2 separate regions of the Homo sapiens genome follow, and region 1 is linked to region 2. The links come from fine-mapping of genetic effects on gene expression. A gene starts in region 2. The other region holds a variant in brackets. All regions are shown on one strand. Distances are between the middles of the regions. Region 1 overlaps SYNJ2 (synaptojanin 2). Region 2 holds the start of SERAC1 (serine active site containing 1).

Region 1 (10,575 bases), 77 kb after region 2:
TAATCCTTACTTTATACATCAACCTTCAGGTGGCTCCCCAAAATGTTATACCAAATCTGTAAAATGCAAATAAAACAAAAGACAAATCTCCATCACGTACAACATGAACTGAACAGCCATTTAAAAATTCAATGGGTGAGAACTTCTTGGACCTCATTGGCTAGATTCCTTTCTTAAAATCCATACACCGAATTTAACAGGAAGGTTCCCATTCCTTGAAGAGCAAACTTCAGATGTACAAGCCTTGAGTGAAATATATTTTGGTGGCTGAGTAACCATCTTACTGAATAAGAGACACGATTTTTGTAAACTACACGAGAGTGACAGATGCACAAACGTTTTGGCCAGTGTGCCTTTAAATAGATGTCTCTTCTGGTGGAGGGATGTCTAGAGGGAGGAAGGTATGCATTCTATAGGACTGCAGCCTTCAAAGCTGCTCAGTCATGTTTTTGCCAGTGGGTCAAACACCTGCAGTGCTGTCCTCTTTTCTTGGTCACTGATTGTCACCCAGTGACCTAAGGTTTTGTGTTCATGATCTGGTGGCAGCTCTGCCTTGGCAGCTGAAGCGCCAGCTGACACTGGGTCTATGGGATCTCTTTTGGGGCTCCTGGTTCCTGAGTCCAAAGGGTCTGAGCTCTTAGAAAGCCAAGTGTTATTCAACAGTTTAGGGTGGTGAAGAAGGTTCCAGAAGGGGTCCTGATAATCACCAAGAAGTGGGGCTGCCTCTGGCTTCATCGCTTTGGTGCCATCGCTGTCGGGGCTTGTAGCAGATGAAGTGCTGAGAAAGTCCCCTTGTGGGAAGACGGTGCCCGCGGCAGGTGGGTGCCCAGAGGGGCTGTCACTGCTATTGTAAGTGAGGCCCTGGAGAAGCTGGCTGTTGCTCTGCAGGACCTGCAGGTGGAAGGCTGCGGGGGCTGACTTCTTCCTCCTCGGGGGTACCTTGGGCACAAGAGGCGGCGCCTCCAGAGGTGGTGGCACAGAGGCTCCTGCCCCAGGAGGGGCTTCGTCTGATGCTGGCTTCCTGTGGCTTGGCCTCTCTGCAGCTTTCCCAGGCTGAAATGTTCTTGGTTTGGGAACAGGAGGGACTCGAGGGGCTGTCACGACAGGAGGGGCCTCAACGCTTGTCTCCGGGGGCCCGATTGTAAAATGGACAGTCTGTTGCTCAAACTGTTCTTCCGGTGACAGGGGCTGAGAAAAGGTGGGACAAAGAGTGTAAATAAGAAGCCAATAACTAGGCAGCTGAGGATCAGAGAACAGAGTGGCCAGCAGAGAACAGAGATGAGACCAAGCTGACATTCTAGCAAATTCGAGATTTGAGAATGTGTGGGGTGCCAGAAATGTGACCAGGTAAGAAAAAGAAAAAGCACAGGAGAAACACACATTTATCAGGTCACACCAGCAGGTCCAATGAAAACGAGTGGAAAATTTAAAACCAGGGCCACAGTAAATAATCAGACAAACTTTTCTTTGTCCTTTAGGAAATGGGGTGATGCTCTTCCTTTATTGAAAGCAAACCTCTCTGAAAACACTCTTTGAAGTTGCAACCTGGGCTGATTCATGGTCTGTATCATGCTAGGGTGAAGTAACTTGTGTTACAACATAAGCTAACTGAAGGACTAATGGATATACTTTCTCCTTGAATTTTTTTTTTTTTTTTGAGAAGGAGTCTCGCCCTGTCCCCCAGGCTGGAGTGCAATGGCGCAATCTCAGCTCACTGTAACCTCCGCCTCCCAGGTTCAAGCGATTCTCCTGCTTCAGCCTCCCGAGTAGCTGGGATTGCAGGCGCCTGCCACCATGCCTGGCTAATTTTTGTATTTTGTAGTAGAGACGGGGTTTCACCATGTTGGTCAGGCTGGTCTTGAACTCCTGACCTCAGGTGATCCACCCGCCTCAGCCTCCCAAAGTGCTGGGATTACACGCGTGAGCCACCGCGCCCAGCTCCTTGAATCTTTTATACTTAAATATTGGTAAAGAATGGAAACCTTGACACTGCCTTGGTTCTGGTTCAAATCTATCACAAAGAAAACAACTGCACAGGCAAAATGAAGCTTTTGTTCAGAAAAGGTGATCAGTAGACTAGTTAAACATTGGCGTTTCAGTGTTTCTTTGGTTCTTTAGAAAACAAACTAAGAAAAAAGAAAGTCTCTTTTCCAACAGCCTTTTAACTTTAACTCCTGTGCAGCAGGTTGGGAAAATGAATCTATTTCTGCTCCTGGCTTTTACAAGAAAAGACAAAGCAGGTGGTCCCCGACTTACAATGGTTCCACTGAGGATTTTCCACTTCACCCTAGTGCACAAGCGCTAATGTTCCGTAGAAAGCATACTTTGAATTTTGAAGTTTGATCTTTTATTTTTATTATTATAAAATAGGCTGTGTTGGATGGGTGTTTTTTTTTTTTTTTTTTTTTTTTGCCCAGCCGTAGGCTAATGTATGTGTTCTGAGTGTGTTCAAGGTCAGCGAGACCATGACGTTTGCTAGGTTAGGTGTATGAGATGCAGTTTTGACACGCTATTTTTCAACTTACGATGGGTTTATTGGGATGTAACCCCATTTTAAGTCGAGGAGCATCTGAACAGGGAAGAGGCGGAGGAAAAAGGTCCACTTTGTAAGGAAGCATGGACAAGGGACAGATGGCAATGAGCCAATGTGGGACAGAAGAGCAACCCAGGAAATACAAAGCAAGCGCTGTCAAGAGTGAAGCCGAAGCCCCCCTCACACTCTCTAGGGGGGAAGCAGCATCGTGCTGTGATGACCAGGAAGGGATTACCGAGGGTCCGTTACTAGAACACTGAGATCAAACGGAAGATCCAGATGTGTCTACAGATGCCAGTCTTTGGGCTGCTACTGTCCTTACAAACTCATGTCTTTGAAGCAGTAAGCAAGGCTGAGAAGCTTGAGAGCGAGAGCAAAAAACAATCTGCAAGAAAAGTGGCAAGAAAAGCTGTGGAACCTCTCGTAGGCTGAGGCCGCACGAGAGCATGTGAACATGGCGAATCTGGGAATCGGTTACTGTTTTCCTAATGCCTTGAAACCATGTGCACACAACACAGACCACACGCAAATGGGCGGTACCAGAACATGTGGGGAAAAGCATCCCACTATGGTTCCCTTTGGGGACTCAAAACACTTAGGAAGCATAATACCTCCAAGCTGTTCTTGTCACACTGACAATGTGCCAGACAGTGGACTCCTCGTTCTTCTCAGCCAGAGCCAAGACACAGTAGGATATGAGGGAAGAAGCAGTTGTCAAAACTTTCCCCAAAGACACACCTGTGTCTGGGACTCATGAACGTGAGGATGTCCATAGGGAACTAGATTTTTATCTGTGAGACGCAAATCTGTTTTTTTTTTTTTGTTTTTTTTTTTTTTGAGGTGGAGTCTCACTCTGCTGCTCAGGCTGGAATGCAGTGGCACGATTTCGGCTCACTGCAACCTCTGCCTCCTGGGTTCAAGTGATTCTCCTGCCTCAGCCTCCTGAGTAGCTGGGATTACAGGCGTGCGCCACCACGCCCGGCTAATTTTTCTATTTTTAGTAGAGACGGGGTTTCACACCATGTTGGTCAGGCTGGTCTTGAACTCCTGACCTCGTAATCCGCTTGCCTCGGCTTCCCAATGTGCTGGGATTACAGGCCACAATTCTTATCTATCGAGACATGTGAGCAACTTAGGAGTAAGAGGTTTTATGTTACCAGGCTTTTACCTTTCCTGTCCTTCTCAAGGTTGGCTTCTTGATGGCAGGAACTCTGGGTGGGGGCCGACGGGGAAGGAGTGGGGGCGCCTGTGGGGTCTCTGGTTTGGCTGCCCCCGGTGTGGGCTCTGGTTCAGAGGATGCTTCAAGGTCCCTTGGGGCCACGGCACTTAGGGCTTCTTCGGAGGCACCTGAAACATAAAACCACATGGCTGAAGTGTAAAGGACAAGGCAATTCACTGCATGATTTCGTCCTTAGACAGTCTACATCCTAAGTGTCATTTACTAATTCAGTGTATTTCAGGAGTAATCAGCTAGATTCAGTCCCAGCTTTTTTTCTTTTTTCTTTTTTAAGATGGGCTCTCGCTCTGCCACCCAGGCCGGAGTGCAGCGGCATGATCACGGCTCACTGCAGTCTCAACCTCCCAGGCTCGAGCAATTCTCCCATTTCAGCCTCCTGAGTAGCTGGGATTACGGGTGAGCACTGCCACGCCCAGCCAATTTTTAAAATTTTTAGTAGAGATGAGGTCTCACTATGTTGCTGGAACTCCTGGGCTCATGCAGTCTTCTTACCTCAGCCTCCCAAGTAGCTGGGACTACTGGTGTGAACCACCACGCCCAGCTAATTTTAAAATTTTTGTAGAGAGAGGGTCTCATTGTGTTGCCCAGACTTGTCTCGAACTCCTGGATTCAAGCAGTCCTCCCACCCCAGCCTCTCAAAGTGCTGGGATTACAGGCGTGAGCCACCGCACCCAGCAGTCCCAGGTTTTCATGCTCACCTTCCTAGCAGGGGTGGTGATCTGGGGTCTGTGGATAGTTTGGATGGGGACCAGTGAGACCCTGAGATCATATGCAAAGTCTCATGTGTACTTACATTTCTCAGGGTAGATGATCCAAAGACATCAAAATCTCAATGGGGCCATGACCAAGAAAGTGTTAAGCCGGGACTGTAGGTAGATTTCACACCTCTACTAACATCTACATCTCTAGAGTTTTTTTTTTTTTAACAGCTTTATTGTGACATAATTCACATACCGTGAAATTCACCCTTTCTAAGTGTACCATTCATTGGTTTTTAGTGTATCCACAAAGTTGTGCAACCATCATACGATCTAACTCCAGAACATTTTCATCACACAAAAAAGAAGCCCCACAGCAGCCACTCCCCACCCAGGCCTCCTTCCAGTCCCTGGAAAGCAAGAAGAACTTTCTGACCCCATGAATTTGCCTGCTGTGGCCATTTCATAAAAAGGGGATGGTACACTATGTGGCCTTTTTTTCTTTCTTTCACATAGTATAATGTCTTCAAGGTCCACCCATGAAGTAGTATGTATCAGCACTTCATTCTTTTTTTTTTTTTTTTTTATGAGACAGAGTCTAGCTCTGTCACCCAGGCTGGAGTGCAGTGGCGTTATCTTGGCTCACTGCAACCTCTGCCTCCCCAGTTCAAATGATTCTTCTGCCTCAGCCTCCCGAGTAACTGGGACTAACAGGCACGTGCCACCACGCCCGGCTAATTTTTTTGTATTTTTAGTAGAGATGGAGTTTCACTGTGTTAGCCAGGATGGTCTCGATCTCCTAACCTCGTGATCCGCCTGCCTCGGCCTCCCAAAGCGCTGGGATTACAGGCGTGAGCCACTGCACCCAGCACCCAGCCCCATTCTTTTTTTTTTTAATGGCTGAACAATATTCCATTGTATTGATGGACCACATTTTGTTTATCCATTTATCAGCTGATGGACACTTGGGTTGTTATATCCATAGTTTTAGTTATTTTTCTTTCTTTCTTTTTTCTTTTTTTGAGACGGAGTCTTGCTCTGTCACCCAGGCTGGAGTGCAGTGGTGCAATCTTGGCTCACTGCGAGCTCCACCTCCCGGGCTCAGCCATTCTCCTGCCTCAGCCTCCTGAGTAGCTGGGACTACAGTCACCCACCATCACGCCCGGCTAATTTTTTGAATTTTTAGTAGAGACGGGGTTTCACCGTGTTAGCCAGGATGGTCTCGATTTCCTGTCCTCGTGATCCACCCGCCTCGGCCTCCCAAAGTGCTGGGATTACAGGCGTGAGCCACCGCGCCCGGCCTAGTT[T/A]TAGTTATTTTTCTAAAATAAAAAAAAAGAAAGCATTTGTAGCAGTATCATTCTACAACAGTAGTTCTCGACCTTTTAACTCATGCCCCCTTAAATATTATTTGAGAATTCCAAAGAAGTTAAACATGCTGACTAAAAGCAAATTAAGCAATGGTGATTGCTTACACCTTTTTAAAGGGCACACTCGGCCAGGTGTGGTGGCTCACACCTGTAATCCCAGCACTTTAGGAGGCCAAGGTGGATGAATCACCTGAGGTTGGGAGTTCAAGACCAGCCTGGCCAACAAGGTGAAATCACATTTCTACTGAAAATACAAAAATTGGCTCATCATGGGGCTGCGCGCCTGTAGTCCCAGCTACTCAGGTGGCTGAGGCAGGATATTTGCTCGAACCTGGGAGGCGGAGGTTGCAGTGACCTGGGATTGAGCCACTGCACTCCAGTCCAGCTGACAGAGTGAAACTCAGTCTCAAAAAAAAAAAAAAAAAAAACAAAAAAAAAAACGAAGAAAAGGGCACACTCTCCTCTCTAGGAGATTCTGGAACAAAGCCAAGGCCAAAACTAAAAGTGTAAATTACCAGTGATTATGAATGAAGTGGGGGAGAGCCCAAGGTAACTAACATGGTTTAAGTAACAGCAACAAAAAATAATGTGGTGGGAAAGAGGTCCCTGCCTGACACTAAAAACTTTATTTCCACTTGCCAGTGATTTAAAAGGTAGATTTTGTGCCTGAAATTAGGACAAACACTATAACTGTCTCTGTTTTATAAAGCTGGCAGAATGACTTCATGCCGGCAGCATTCACCTTTTTTAAAAACTCATTTTGGTTTTTTTCGGTCTCTCCTTTAGACGCCGCTTAATAGCCCTGGGATGATTTTTATATACACACAGAATTTTGAAAATACAATTTTAAATGGACAATCAATCTTAGTATAGATTTATATAAAATGTTGCTAAAGGATGTTTTCATTTAATATTGCCTCCAGAAGAATAAAAAGAGTTATTTTCGTTTCTAGACCACTTTTAGCAGGGAGATAAAAAGAAAAGGAGAATTGGTTTTTCCCCTGCCCCCAGGAAAGCACCTACCTCCTCTGGCTTCCAGGAGACACCGGATTGCTGCTTCTGCCTCCTGGGCATTGGTGGTTTTGATCTGCTTGACATTATAAGGTTTACTTATTCCAGTCCGAGCCTTGGGCTTGAGGACAGAATGAGGAAGAGCAGAGTATCAGCAGAGGCAGGAGGACAGCCTCGTGGGACGTATCTGCTACCCGTGGGTCTGTGCAGGGCTCCACCAGACGATGCTGACCATACAAACTCCAGCCTCCACCACACCCTGCAATCCTCTCTTTCCTGGAGCACTCTCTTTCCAAGAGTGCCATACTACTTAGACCTGATGACCCTGGTCTTCAAAGCCGGGTGATTACAGATTTTTGCATATGGACAGACCATCTTCTATCTTTTTTTCAATAACCAGGTGAAAGCCAGAAAGCAAAATAAGAGGCCACTCTTTCCATGGTCCCACTGAGTTGTTAAAATACCTTCCTTAAAAGTGCTTTTTCTACTTCTTCATCCAGCATGTGGGTTGCCTTTATGACCTATTTTCACTACTGTAAAACACTGGCCTCCAGTCACCCCTCCACCTGCTGGGGCCGCACAAGCACTTAACCAGGCCCAGCACCCCAGAGGCATCCCGGTCATAGCAGTTTCCCCCTAGCACCCAGCTTCCCCTCTCTCCCCTCTACTTCCCTGCCTTCACCTGCTCTCTTCCCCAGCAGCTCATGGTACCCTCTGGAACCAGGCACCTCCACAATCCTCTATGGCTGTTAGTCTTCCTAGTGTGTTCCCCAACTTCATTATTTACATCTCTTTTTAGCCTCTTCTCTCAACCAACTTCACTCCAGAATGATCATCATTTTCCCAGGATAACGACCTGAATTTCTCCCATTTTCCCTTCTACCAAGCAATGCTCTGCCCATACACCAAGGTCAGAGGCAAGAATGGGAAGAGAGAGAAATGGATGAGTATGGAAACCAGGGATATTTGGGATTTTTCATCAAAAGTGATTTTTTCTAGAACACTCCATACAACCATTTAAAAGCCCTATGGAGAACCTGCGAGGAAGGGTTATGGGGTTTGGAGATGAGATGGTGAGCAGGTAGAGGGTTAAAGACACATAAATCTATATATTCACTGAGAAGAGAGATCCCACACTATCCCGGGGGCAAAACCCTTGGGATTGAAATGTATGCAGAAGAACTCACAGGTTGCTGAGGTGCTCCTGGTAGAAGTCTTGCCGTCTGCAAAATTGAATACTGTCCATGGGTGCCGGAGGAGATGGACGCATCTGAAGCCGACTTTTTCACCATTAAACCGGCTGTAAAAACCAACGAGGGCAGAGTCTCAATCTCAGTGAAGGCACAACTTCCCAGCCAGCTGCCAGGAGCCCGACTAGACGAGGCGGATGTCCCAGCAGACCACAGACACGGTGAGGTCCGAATACTCACTCGGCACTTAGGGCACCCACAGAGCCAGGCCTTCCTTGACTCTCTATGGAGTTTCTCACTTGATTCTACCAGTGTGTGCCTATTGATGTAGATGATCTGGAGAAGCATTACTAGAATGCAAACTTTAACATCTTGGGGGATTCAGATCTGATATAAAAACCAATTGATTTTGAAATGGTTCCAAATACTATTGCTAGGACCAGATTTTTAAAATATTTTGTGGGGAAAAAATATTTCAAAAACCCCAGCCTGGGCAACATGGTGAAACTGTCTCTACAAAATAAATAAATAAATGAATAAAAATAGCCAAGCCTGATGGTATGCGCCTGCAGTCCTAGCTACTTGGCAGGCTGAGGTAGGAGGATTGCTTGAGCCGGGGAGGTCAAGGCTTCAGTGAGCTGTGAGATCGCACCACTGCACTCCAGCCCGGGGGACAGAATGAGCCCATCTCAAAAAAAAAAAAAAAAAAAAAAAAAAAAAAAAAAAAAAAAAAAATTCCAAAGCAGGGGAATAAACTGTTAAAATATACTTGCAGCCATTAACAAATCATGTTTTAGAACATTCAATGACACAGAAAATATAACCCATTAAATAAAAGACAACCGACCAGAGAAAATGGGTATTAATTTTGTTAAAAAAAAAAAAAAAAAAAAAGAAGTATGTTGCTGCAGATACATGAAACTGGAAAAAGAAGACTTTTTTCAACAACTACGACCCGTAGGTCATCAAGTGAATTTTAAAATTTTGTTCTTCTTTGTAGTTATCTCTAAAATTTCCACAATAATACATGACTTATGCATTTTATTTTTGGGTTATTTTTATATCTGGGCTTGTGGCTTGCCATTGGTTACTACCGTGACGTCAGCCACAATGAGCCCAATTCTGAAGTAATGGCTTAGGAAGATCTAAGTCTGATCATCACATTTTTGGGGAGGGAGAAGTAAACAGTGGTGGGAAAATGCAAGTGGATCAAAAGCACATCACAGCTTTGCTTTCAGGTTATCAGGGAGGGCTGGACGGGCAAAGCATTGTTCGAACAACCAGAAGAAAATGCTCCTAGACCCAGGATAAGGGGGAACTTGTTCTGAGCCCGGGGAACAGGAGGCCTCGGAGCGCAGAGGGGTGACCAGGTCACCTCCAGGCGGGGACCTGGGTTTACCAGATTCCTCATAAGTAGAGGGAGGACTGCGCAGCAGCTGAGGAGAGACTTCTGACTGCGAAGCTCACGTCCCTCCCATGGCTGCGGCCCCCATTCTGCATCCTCTAATGCTGCCAAGGGAGAGCAGTTTGAAGCAATAGCACAGCTCCAGGGTGAACAGCAGCTTTGGAAAGGAGCTGTTTCATTTGCCATGAGAAACACAACCAGCCCTGACGTCAAACGTGTCCTGGATTTACAACAAAACGGAGCCCAAGGAGGAGGAAGCCCTGTGGGGACCGGAAGGCCGGGGAGAAGTGGATTCGGAGCCGTGTTTTCAGTAGCAGGGAACGCGCGGTTATTCCTGGCAGGCATCCAGGGAGCTGAAAGCAAGCAGAGTCTTACTTGGAGGGGGGGGTCTCTGCGGGGGTTGAGGTGGCCGAGGCCGGTTGGGGACCGACAGAGACCTGCTCGGAGAACGGTGGCGGAACTCCCCGACGGCTTCCAGCTCCCGCTTGAGCTCCACCAGGTCCGCGTCATCTGGAGGACATGGCGGGGCATGAGTACAATGGTCTGTTCCACACGTGAGCGTGTCAGACACGGATCTGAGCACAGGAGGCCGACTGTGGCAGGGGGACCTGCTGTAGGACAGCTGAAGGCTCTGTCCAGAAACGGGCACCTCTGTCTGCCGGCGAGGGGCGGGGGCGGGGAGGGCACCCAGTGCCTGCTTGGAACATTCAGTGAACCATGGATAATGGGTATTTCTCAGACTTGAGAGACACTGAGCTATTTCAAAGTGTGTTTTCTTGTGAAATAACAAGACTTGGGCAGAGTGGAGGAGACAGTTGCAAACCACAACCCCTGAAGAGTCAACCAACCACAGGCAGATGTTTTCAATTCCTCACTCTAGAACACACCGGCTGAGGAAGCTGAGGGTGTTCTCCCTGCTCTGGCAGCAGAGCAGCCTGGCATGCAGTGGCCAGTGCCTAGGACCAGGGGTCCTGCTTACTCATCAAATCCCAAACCCTGTGGGCCCATGGCTGGCCACTCCCAAGGGTCTGCCATCTTGACCTGCCCTGCACACACCTTCCAAGAGGCTGAGGGGTTTTCAGGAGGCACAGCTCCTGCTTCCTTACAGATCAAATCAGCAGCCCTAGGGCTCCC
Region 2 (10,575 bases):
AGGATACAGTAAAGAAACCAGCCAGAACCAAGATGGCAACAAAAGCAACCTTCACCACTATCATACACAAATCATAATGCATGCGCACGCTAAAAACCACCCCCACCAGCACCACGACAGTTTACAAATGCCATGGCAATATCTAGAAGTTACCCCGTATGGTCTGGACTGGGGACTCCTGGTTCCACAGAATCCCTGCCTCTTTTCCAGAAAACTCACGAATAATCCACCCCTTGTTTAACATATACTCAAGAAATGGCCATAAAATAGCCAGTTAGCAGGCCCGCCTGCTTCCCACCCTCCCCACTCCACTCTGCCTATGGGGTAGCCACCCTTTTATTCCCTCATTTTTAATAAACTTGCTTTCACTTTACTCTGTGGCTCATTCTTGAATTCTTTCCTGCATGAAGCCAAAAACCAACTTGGCTTCCAGGGCTGAGCCTCAATTTTGGTATTCACCTGCAACAGCTGTAGAAGATCCTTGAGTGGTCTGCCTGTAAACTCCAGACCTATCAAATTCCATACTCCAATACACCTAAATGCTTCATACAATCCATGGATATTATGAAGTAATAAACAGACTTATACTGATAATCATATTATTAACAGGCTTCTCCTTGGCATCAAATATGGACATGAGGGAAACTGAAGGACTTTTCCAGTTACCATCCTAACATCTGCATCTAACTGTGAAAGGGAATCCACTAGCACTGGCCATACCCTTTCCTTTGGGAATCTATGTTATTTCTTAGGCCCAAAATCTTTTTGGAAGACTTGTGTTTTTGGGAAGACAGAGTTACCCTTTTGAAAAATTGTGCAGACTACACTTTAGAATTCACTTCAAAGGGAAAAATTAGTTTTGCAAGGATGGTACCTAACCTGCAAAATAAAATTTAATAGTCCTGGTGCAAAACACTTCTCCACAGGGAAACATTATTAAACTGAAGCTGATTAACAGTATTATTGCTTCTCAAAATTTAAATGCATCTTAACAAGATTCTTTGTATGCACAATTCTGATTTAGTAGATTTAGGGTGAGGTCTGAGATTTTGCATTTCTAACAAGCTCCAGATGATGCTATTACTGCTAGTCTGGGGATTACCCTGAAGTGCAAGGTGATGGACAGTCATTAGAGAGACCAGGTAGAATTCAGAGGTTAGATACGGGACAGCAAACCGGGCACTGAGACTTCAGAGTCTCCCCAGAGTTTTGTTCTTTAAGATGCAATCCAGTCATCTTTTTTTTCAAATTAAAACGTAGGTTTAATGCAATTCCAACCAATATGCCAAAAGGATTATTTTGGAAACAGACTAAGTTATTTCAAGGTTATTCTAGAATAGGCAACAAGAAAGATGAATGTGGGAAGGGATGAAAGAGAATAGCAAGGGGAGTAAAATTATGTGATTAAGGAGGCATCAAGCATCATTAAGAAAGGAAATAATGGTGGAGAACTAGATATTTGGCAAAATGAACAGACAAAAACACCCAAAACAAAAAAGAAGCTAGGCTGGGTGCAGTGGCTCATGCCTGTAATCCCAGCACTTTGGGAGGCCGGGGCAGGTGGATCATGAGGTCAAGAGATCGAGACCAGCCTGGCCAACATGGTGAAACCCCATTTCTACTAAAAATACAAAAATAAAATTAGCCGGGTGTGGTGGTGTGTGCCTGTAATCCCAGCTACTCGGGCAGCTGAGGCAGCAGTATCGCTTGAATCCAGGAGCCAAGATCGCGCCACTGCACTCCAACCTGGCAACAGAGCAAGACTCCGTGTCAAAAAAAAAAAAAAGAAGCTAATTTAGATCCTTATCTAATAATATGTCTCTTCTCTGAATAAATTCTAGATGAATGAATCTAACACACCAAGAAAAACACAAAATCCCCACAAGAGAGAAGTGAATATTTAACAAACCTATGCCACTCCTCCCAATAAATTCTAGATGAATGAATCTAAAACACCAAGAAAAACACAAAACCCTCAGAAGAGAGAAGTGAATATTTAACAAACCCAGGGGTGAAGATTAAACTTAGAATTGGAAGAAACGAGGGAAAAAAAGTGATAGCTGACACTCTGTGTATGTGTATCCTCTGTATTTAAAAATAACACTAAAGGCCAACGAGGAAAATGTTTATGTTATGTCAAATTAATAGGAAAATAAGTACATCAAACCTAGTGCCTTCAAAAGACAACAGAACAGTGTGTTTAGAACTTCTGGGGTCCAGATCCCACCCCCTTTGCTTTTCCAAGTGAATACCTCTCCCCCGCAGTGGTTTACTCTCATCAACGTACATTCTAGTCTTTCACATTAAAATAAAAATAGCAAGAACCTGAGCCCCTCACCATGTCCTTCGTCAGCTACCAATCCAGTTCTCTATGAGATTGCTCATGATCACAGTAAAACTTCTCCGAAGTCTCCATCTCCACCTCCTCACCTCCCTTTCCTTTTCCACAGTACTTCAATCTGGCATCTCCCCACCACTCCATTCAAATGGCTCTCATCAAAACTCCAGTCTTCATCTCATGCCAGTTCTCAATCAGTGCCCAACACAGCCGCTCATCCCTACAAAACACTTCCTCCTTTGGCTTTCCTCCCTCCAGCCTCACTGGCTATTTTCTTCTTAGTTGCCTTTGTTGGTGTCTCCTGTATCAAAACTCCAAATCTGCACTATGCATAAGGTAGCCCACTAGTCAGGTCACTACAGAGTCCTTGAAACACGGTTAGTCTGTGAGATGTGCTGTAAAATTAAAATATCCATTCGACTTTGAAGATGAAGATTTTTTTGAAGACTTAGTATGTGTTCAAAGCATAGTGTTTTGCATAGACAGGGTTAAACAAAAGATATTAACTTCACCTGTTTCATTTTACGTTACTTTTAAGATGGCTAGAAAAAATGTAAGACTATATCTGTGGCTTGCATTAGATTTCTATTGGCTAGTGCTGTTCTAAATGTTGGCAGTGTCCTAGGGTTTGGTCTTGCTCCTCCTTAGCCTTGCCATCACAGTAAACAGTATCATTATCCATGCACTGGCTCATATTAGAGGCACCGAAAGTAGACAGTAGTATTTTCAGACAATGGGAGTGTCCACAGAGCAGGGTTCCCGGGGTTCCTGGACACTGGATTGCTTTGAGGAACTCAACTCTGCCCATTTATGGTTTTTAGTTTCTCCTCTGGAATGTACCTAAAGGAATTTAAGAAACCTCCATTTGGCTCTGTTGTTTTTCTCTTTTTTAAAGTCCACAGTTTGTAATGGTAAAGACTTAAGCAAGTTCCTGAACTCTTTCAGGCCCTAAAATTCATCATGTTTGAGGAGAATGCAAGCACTGTTTCTCTAAAGACGACTCATCTAACAAATATGCTGCCTCTGATCATGCCAGTTCCATCAATTCAACAGAGGGACTGAAATCTGGCACCAGGAGCTTTGCAACAAAATCTGTGCCACTTGTTAAAAGCGAAAGACTTGATTTCATCCATATCTTAAAAACAACAGGGTTTTAGAAAAGACATACATACAAGTCAAGATTCAATATTTAAACTTAAAACTCATGCAGTATCAAAACTACTAACCATTCTATAAGCACTCCTTTCAAGACGTTGACCATGTTTTCTCAGAAGGTTCAGATGACCTGAAGAATGCTAATAAAAAGAGTAAGGTAACATTAAATTAAAAATCATTAACTTTCATATACTTTGGGGATCTGCCTCTGAAACGAGGCAAAATAATTAAATGTCAATATTTAACAGTTAAGTCTATGAAAGACAGTTAACATTAAGAAAAAAGACATTCTGATTTTTTAACAAAATTAAAATGAGTCTACTTGGAATATTAATGCCACATCTTACTCGCCAGCCAATTCTACCCAAGGTCAATTAGCCCTAATAGAAGCAAGAGGCCTAACTCTACACCAGTGTGCCCAACCCAGGTATAAACCGTCCATTATTCAAAGGATTTCTTTTCCCATTCAGGAGAATGACAAAGGGTAAGATCCTGGGAGACAGGAATCAAAGAAGATAGTTCTGAAAGGTGCTTCAAAAATTATACAGTGAGCCCAACCACCTCCTTTTAGTTTATATTTTATTTTACTGAGACAGGGTCTGGCTCTGCCGCCCAGGCTGTAGTGCAGTGGCGCGATCTCTGCTCCCTGCAACCTCTTGCCTCCTGGGTTCAAGCGATCCTCCCACCTCAGCCTCCCGAGTAGCTGGGACTACAGGCATGCACTACTAAGCCCAGCTAATGTACTGTGTTGTATCGTGTGTGTGTGTGTGTATATATATACACACTTTTATATATAATATATAATATACAATATATAATATATAATATACAATATATTATATATAATATACAATATATTATATAATATATAATATACAATATATTATATAATATATAATATACAATATATTATATAATATATATTATATATTATATAATATACAATATATTATATGTAATATACAATATATGTAATATACAATATATTATATGTAATATACAATATATGTAATATACAATATATTATATATAATATACAATATATTATATATAATATACAGTATATTATATATAATATACTGTATATTATATATAATATACAATATATTATATAATATACAATATATTATATATAATATACAATATAATATATATAATATATAATATATATAATATACAATATATTATATATAATATATAATATACAATATAATATTATATATAATATATAATATACATATTATATATATGTATTATATATAATATACGTATTATATATAATATACATAATATACATATTATATATTATATATAAAATAAATATATATTATATATAAAATACATATATAATATATATATATGTATATATACACTTCGAGACAGAGTCTCACTCTGTCGCCCAGGCTGGAGCGCAGTGTCGTGATGTCGGCTCACTGCAACCTCTGCCTCCCGGGCTCAAGCGATTCTCCTGCCTCAGCCTCCCAAGCAGCGGGGACTACAGGCGCCCGCCACCACGCCAGGCCAAATTTTGTATTTTTAGTAGAGGCAGGGTTTCACCATGTTGGCCAGGCTGGTCTCGAACTCCTGATCTCAAATGATCCACCTACCTCGGCCTCCCAAAGTGCTGGGACAACAGGTGTGAGCCACCGCGCCAGGCCAATTTATTGTATTTTTAGTGGAGACGGGGTTTCACCATGTTGGCCAGGCTGGTCTCGAACTCCTGGCCTCAAGTGATTTGCCCGCCTCGGCCTCCCAATGTGCTGGGATTGCAGGCGTGAGCCACCGCGCCCGGCCTCAGCCACCTCATTTTACATATGAGGAGACCAAAGGAAGAGATTAAGCCGTAGTTCCTGGCCAAAGGAAAAAAGTACAAGCCAGATCTCCAGATCTTGTGCCCCTTCACTAAATAAATCACGTCCCGTGCGGACCTAGGCTGGAAACAAACCACTCAGCGTACGCCCATTTAATTAACTTCCACTTACACCTGGGCGCAGGGCGAGCCCTAGCCCCACAGGAAACCCACGATTAAACGAGGGGGGGACTGCCGTGCGGCCCCGCCAGGAAGGGCCCGGAGAGAGTGGGGGACACCGCCCTGTGCCCCCAGCACCCGGTGGACAGGCTTCTGGGGCTTTTCTCTTCCTCTCCCCTTTCTTTGGGACCCCTCAGTGTTCCCACACCCCACTTTCCCCAGCCGCTCGGACGCTCGCCACACACCTCGGCCCACAGATGCAGAAGCGCCTCGGCGTTGCCGGCAGAGTGCGCCTGCGCCGATACGCCATCGCGCTAGGGACGCTATTGTGGGTGGAGCCAGCCGGCGGGAGGCGGGCCCAGAGCGGGCCGAGGGGGCGGGGTCACGAGCCGCCAGCCGCCGGGTGGAGGGTCCCGGCCGGGAGCCGCGGAAAGAGTAGGGCTCCCCAGACAACGGGGTCCGACGAGCAGTTGGGCACGGGCTGAGTCCGCCTGCCGGCAGGTAGGACGTGAAGGCAGGGGTGGTGTGGGGGCGGACGGGGGCGTCGGCGCAGCTGGGCGCGGTGGGGAGCGGAGAATGGGGAGGGCAGGGACCGGGCACGGCCGAGCACCGCCGTCTGGCGCGCGGACCGGACCGACCAGCTGACGCTCGGCTGGGCGTGAGGGCCTCTCTCTCTGGTGGTCGCGAGCCTGACTCGTCTTTCCCTGTCGCTGCCTTTCTCTGGCTGCTGTCGAGGCCTTGGGGAGTGCACCTGCCGGTCCGTCTTCCCGGGCTCGGTAGTCACGGAGAGATGAGGAGGAGGAGGAAAGGGCCTCACCAGTCACTTCTGAGCCTTGCAGACCACCGCTTCCTGCTCCCTCTCTAACCCCAGAGATGGAATAGATTGAATGCTGAGAGAGCTCTAAACTCGGCAACGGTCATTTTAAAGTGAAAGACCCCAGAAGGTTCTAAAGTTACTCCCTTTCCCCAAGTCTGTTCTGTAAGTCTAAAGGAACACTGTCATTATTTTTACTAGTTGAGATATGAGATTCTTGTTTTCTGTTCCTTAGGTTAAATTGTACTTCCCGCATTAAGCTCATGCTGCCTTTTTTTTTTTTTTTTTTGAGATGGAGTCTCGGTCTGTCTGCCAGGCTGGAGTGCAGTGGCGCGATCTGGGCTCACTGCAACCTCCGTCTCCTGGGTTCAAGCAATTATCCTGCCTCATTCTCCCTAGTAACTGGGATTACAGGCGTGCGCTACCACGCCCGGCTGATTTTCGTATTTTTAGTAGACACGGGGTTTGTCCATGTTGGCCAGGCTGGTCTGGAATTCCTGACATCAGGTGATCCCCCGCCTCGGCCTCCCAGAGTGCTGCGATTACAGGTGTGAGCCACCGCGCCCGACCTCATGCTGCCTTTTTTTTTTTTTTTTTTTTTTTAACATCGTGTGTGTTCATGTGATCGCTAAGGAACCCAGCTCTTCCATTTAGTTCCCTCTTTCTATCCCTCAAATCTTTTCCAACTGGTGATTTCCATATTGTTGCACTCTCTTTAAAATAAAAAAATTGCCTCCAAGTCTTCTTCTTCCCAAGTATCTTTTATTTGCTTTTTTTCATCTTGCATACATTCTCTTCCTTGATCTCATCAGTTCCATTTTTGTGCACTTGATGTGTGTCAGCTATTATTCTAGACGCTTGGGATACAATGGTGAACAGGTAACTAATTTTGGTGGGGGCAGAGAGACTCTGAAATCAGTTAAGGAATAAGTACCATTTGGTGATGTGATAAAGAGTGACTAGAGGGGTTATTTTGGCCAGGGGGATGTCAGAAATGGCCTTAATTTCTGCATTTAAAAACTTCTGTATACCAGTAACAATTAACTAGGAGTTTTAATAATAAAAAGACACTATTCATAATGGCATTCAAAACTAAAGGTACCTAGAAATAGATGAACCTAAAGCTGTGTAGTCCTTTAGACAGAAAATTGTAAGGCTCTGTTGGAACACAAAAGATGACCCAAGTAAATGGTGAGATATACCGTATTAATAGATGGAAAGACTCAACAAAAAGATGTCAGTTTTCCTCAGTTCTACGAATTCAGTGTAATGCCAATTAAAATCACCATATTGTTTTATGGAATTTGCCATGCTGAACTTAAAATTTATATGGAAAGGCAAGGGACCAAGAATAGTGAAGTCAATTTTGAAGAAGAAGAAAAATAAGGTCTCTCCCTATCAGATACCAAAGCTTAATATAAAGTTGTAATTATTAAGATGGTATGATATTGATTCAGGGATAGAGAATTAGATTCATGGAACAGAATAGAGACACTAGAAACATACCTATTTACATACGGGAGTTTAGTATACCACTAAGTGGTATTGCAAAGCAGGGGGAAAGCATAGACTATTCAATAAAGGATGATGAAATATATGGTTGCTGAGATATCTGGCATTGTTATGGTATACAGACAGGATTAGATTCTTACTTTCAAACTATTGACAACAGTTTCCAGATAAAGACCTAAATGTGAATGGCACAGCTGCAAGGTATTTGGAAAGGAATATAAGAGACCATTGTCTCTAGGAAAGATTTCTTTTTTGTTTGCTTTGTTAAATCTTGTTACACATAAGATTTATCATGTTAACCATGTTGAGTTGTTGAGTTCAGTGACATTCACATTGTGCAACCAGCACTACTATCTATCTCCAGAACTTTTTTTTTAAATGTCTCTGAGAAGGATTTCTTAAGTTACAAAAAGCACCTTTGAGGTGTCATTTTATTACTCCAAATGAGAGATGATGTTGGCTTGAACTAGACAAGAGTGTAGCAGTGAATACAGAGAAAAATGGATGGATTTGGGGGTATGTTTTGATGGTAGAGAAGAGCAACTCTGCGTGGTTTAGATGTAGAGTAAGGGGAAAACAAGGAATCAAGGGCAACATCTGTTTTTTTGCTTCAGTTAAGAGGTAGATCATTTACCATTTACAATCAAAAAGCATTGACCATTTGATGGATAGTGATGGAGAAGATTTGTGGAGGAAGAGTTTGGGGAGAAAAAGTAAAGAATTCTCTTTTGGACAGTTGAGTATGAAAGGCCTGTTGGACATCCAAGTGGAAATGTTCCAATAGCTGTTGGATAGATAGGTCAGGAAAGATCGTAGCTAGAGGTACTCTGAGATCACTGGCATATAGATATTAAGAACTGGGCCGGGCACGGTGGCTCACGCTTGTAATCCCAGCACTTTGGTAGGCCGAGGCGGGTGGATCACGAGGTCAGGAGATTGAGACCATCCTGGATAACACGGTGAAACCCCGTCTGTACTAAAAATACAAAAAAATAGCTGGGCGTGGTGGCAGCCGCCTGTAGTCCCAGCTACTTGGGAGGCTGAGGCAGGAGAATGGTGTGAACCTGGGAGACGGAGTTTGCAGTGAGCCGAGATCGCGCCACTGCACTCCAGCCTGGGTGACAGAGTGAGAGACTCTGTCTCAAAAAAAAAACCAAAAAACAAAAAACTGTGGTGTGTTGGAATCAGCTGTGTTACACAGAAAACAAGATAATACTGGCTTAAATATGTATGTAATTGCATAGGTAGGCAGCCATGCTTTTATGGAAGCAGCTCTGTAATCATCAGGGACTCGGATTCTTCTATCTGGCTGCTCTACCGTCCTTAATAAGATGCTTGGTGTTAAGATGACTGCTTTAATTCAAACTGTCAGTTGCTCATTCTAGCAAGAGGGAGGAGGGAAGGAGGAAGAAAGGCACATACCCTTCTTTTTAAGGACACTTTTCAGAAATTGCACATGACACATCCACTCATATTTCATTAGCCAATTCTTTGTAAGTGCCCATAGTTAACTAGAAAGAAAGAAAGGTGATGTAGTCTTTTTTGTTGTCTGTGTACCTAGCTACAACTCACGTTTTATTAATCAGAATGAAAGCATGAAATGATGTTTCACTCTGGCTTCCTCCACCAGGGCAATGAAGCTACTGATATGAAGATCCCAGTGACCTCCATATTGTTAAACTTAATGGAATTTTCAAATATTTGTTTTATTTTTAAATTATAATCTCTTCCCTTTTATTTTCTGTGTCTTTCTTAGTCTCAAAATTTCTCCGTTCTCTACTTAAAATCAGTGTTTCAGATTTTATGTAATCACCGTCATAATATATATATATATTTTTTTGAGATGGAGTCTCGCTCTGTCGCCCAGGCTGGACTGCCGTGGCGCAATCTTTGCTCACTGCAAGCTGCACCTCCTAGTTTCACGCCATTCTCCTGCCTCAGCCTCCTGAGTAGCTGGGACTACAGGTGCCCGCCACCACACCCAGCTAATTTTTTGAATTTTTAGTAGAGATGGGGTTTCACCGGGTTATCCAGGCTGGTCTCGATCTCCTGACCTCGTGATCCTCCTGCCTCGGCCTCCCAAAGTGCTGGGATTACAGGCGTGAGCCACCGTGCCTGGCCCCATAATCTTAAAGGTGCTTTTAAATAGAAATTGACAAGCAGACTCTAAAATTATGTGGAAGTACCAAGGACCTAGAATAGTCCGTCTTGAAAAGGAAGGACACAGCTGGAAAATTTATACTACTAGCTTCAAGACTTACTTTAAAAACTACAGTAATCTGCCTGGTGCGGTGGCTCACACCTGTAATCCCAGCACTTTGGGAAGCCGAGGCGGGTGGATCACGAGGTCAAGAGTTCAAGACCAGCCTGGCCAAGATGGTGAAACCCTGTCTCTACCCAAAATACAAAAATTAGCCAGGTATGGTGGTGGGCATCTGTAATCCCAGCTACTTGGGAGGCTGAGGCAGGAGAATTGCTTGAACCTGGGAGGCGGAGGTTGCAGTGAGCTGAGATCAGGCCACTGCACTCCATCCTGCCTGGGCGACAGAGTGAGACTCTGTCAAAAAGAAAACAAAAAACAACAAAAAACCTACATAATCTAAACAGTGCAGTGTTTATATAAGGATAGATAAATAGATCGATGGAGTGGAATAGGTCCATACATATGTATTCCATTAGGGTTTTTTGTTTGTTTGTTTTGAGATGTGGGTCTCACTGTATTGCCTAGGCTGGTGTTGGGCTCCTGAGCTCCAGCAGTCCTCCTGCCTCAGGCTTCTGAGTAGCTGG

Evidence for each region. PIP is the estimated chance that this variant, and not a neighbour inherited with it, causes the effect.
Region 1: its variant is fine-mapped to the expression of SERAC1 in whole blood (GTEx, PIP 0.94).

What each region holds. Positions count from the first base shown.
Region 1 is chr6:158,086,231-158,096,805 of GRCh38, reverse strand. SYNJ2 (synaptojanin 2) reads right to left here. Exons shown (of 27, transcript NM_003898.4): 23 at 9,817-9,951; 24 at 8,034-8,146; 25 at 6,859-6,967; 26 at 3,702-3,880; 27 at 1-1,188. The coding sequence ends at 442. Among named protein-coding and RNA genes, the nearest start is that of SERAC1, 77 kb to the left of the region's middle. RefSeq lists an enhancer at 423-923 and a silencer at 10,194-10,343. The variant T/A (reference allele first, on the strand shown) is at 5,776.
Region 2 is chr6:158,163,528-158,174,102 of GRCh38, reverse strand. It overlaps SERAC1 (serine active site containing 1), which reads left to right and starts at 5,841. Exons shown (of 17, transcript NM_032861.4): 1 at 5,841-5,963. GTF2H5 (general transcription factor IIH subunit 5) reads right to left here and starts at 5,753. Exons shown (of 3, transcript NM_207118.3): 1 at 5,708-5,753; 2 at 3,565-3,633. The coding sequence starts at 3,599. RefSeq lists silencers at 5,754-5,933, 5,974-6,043.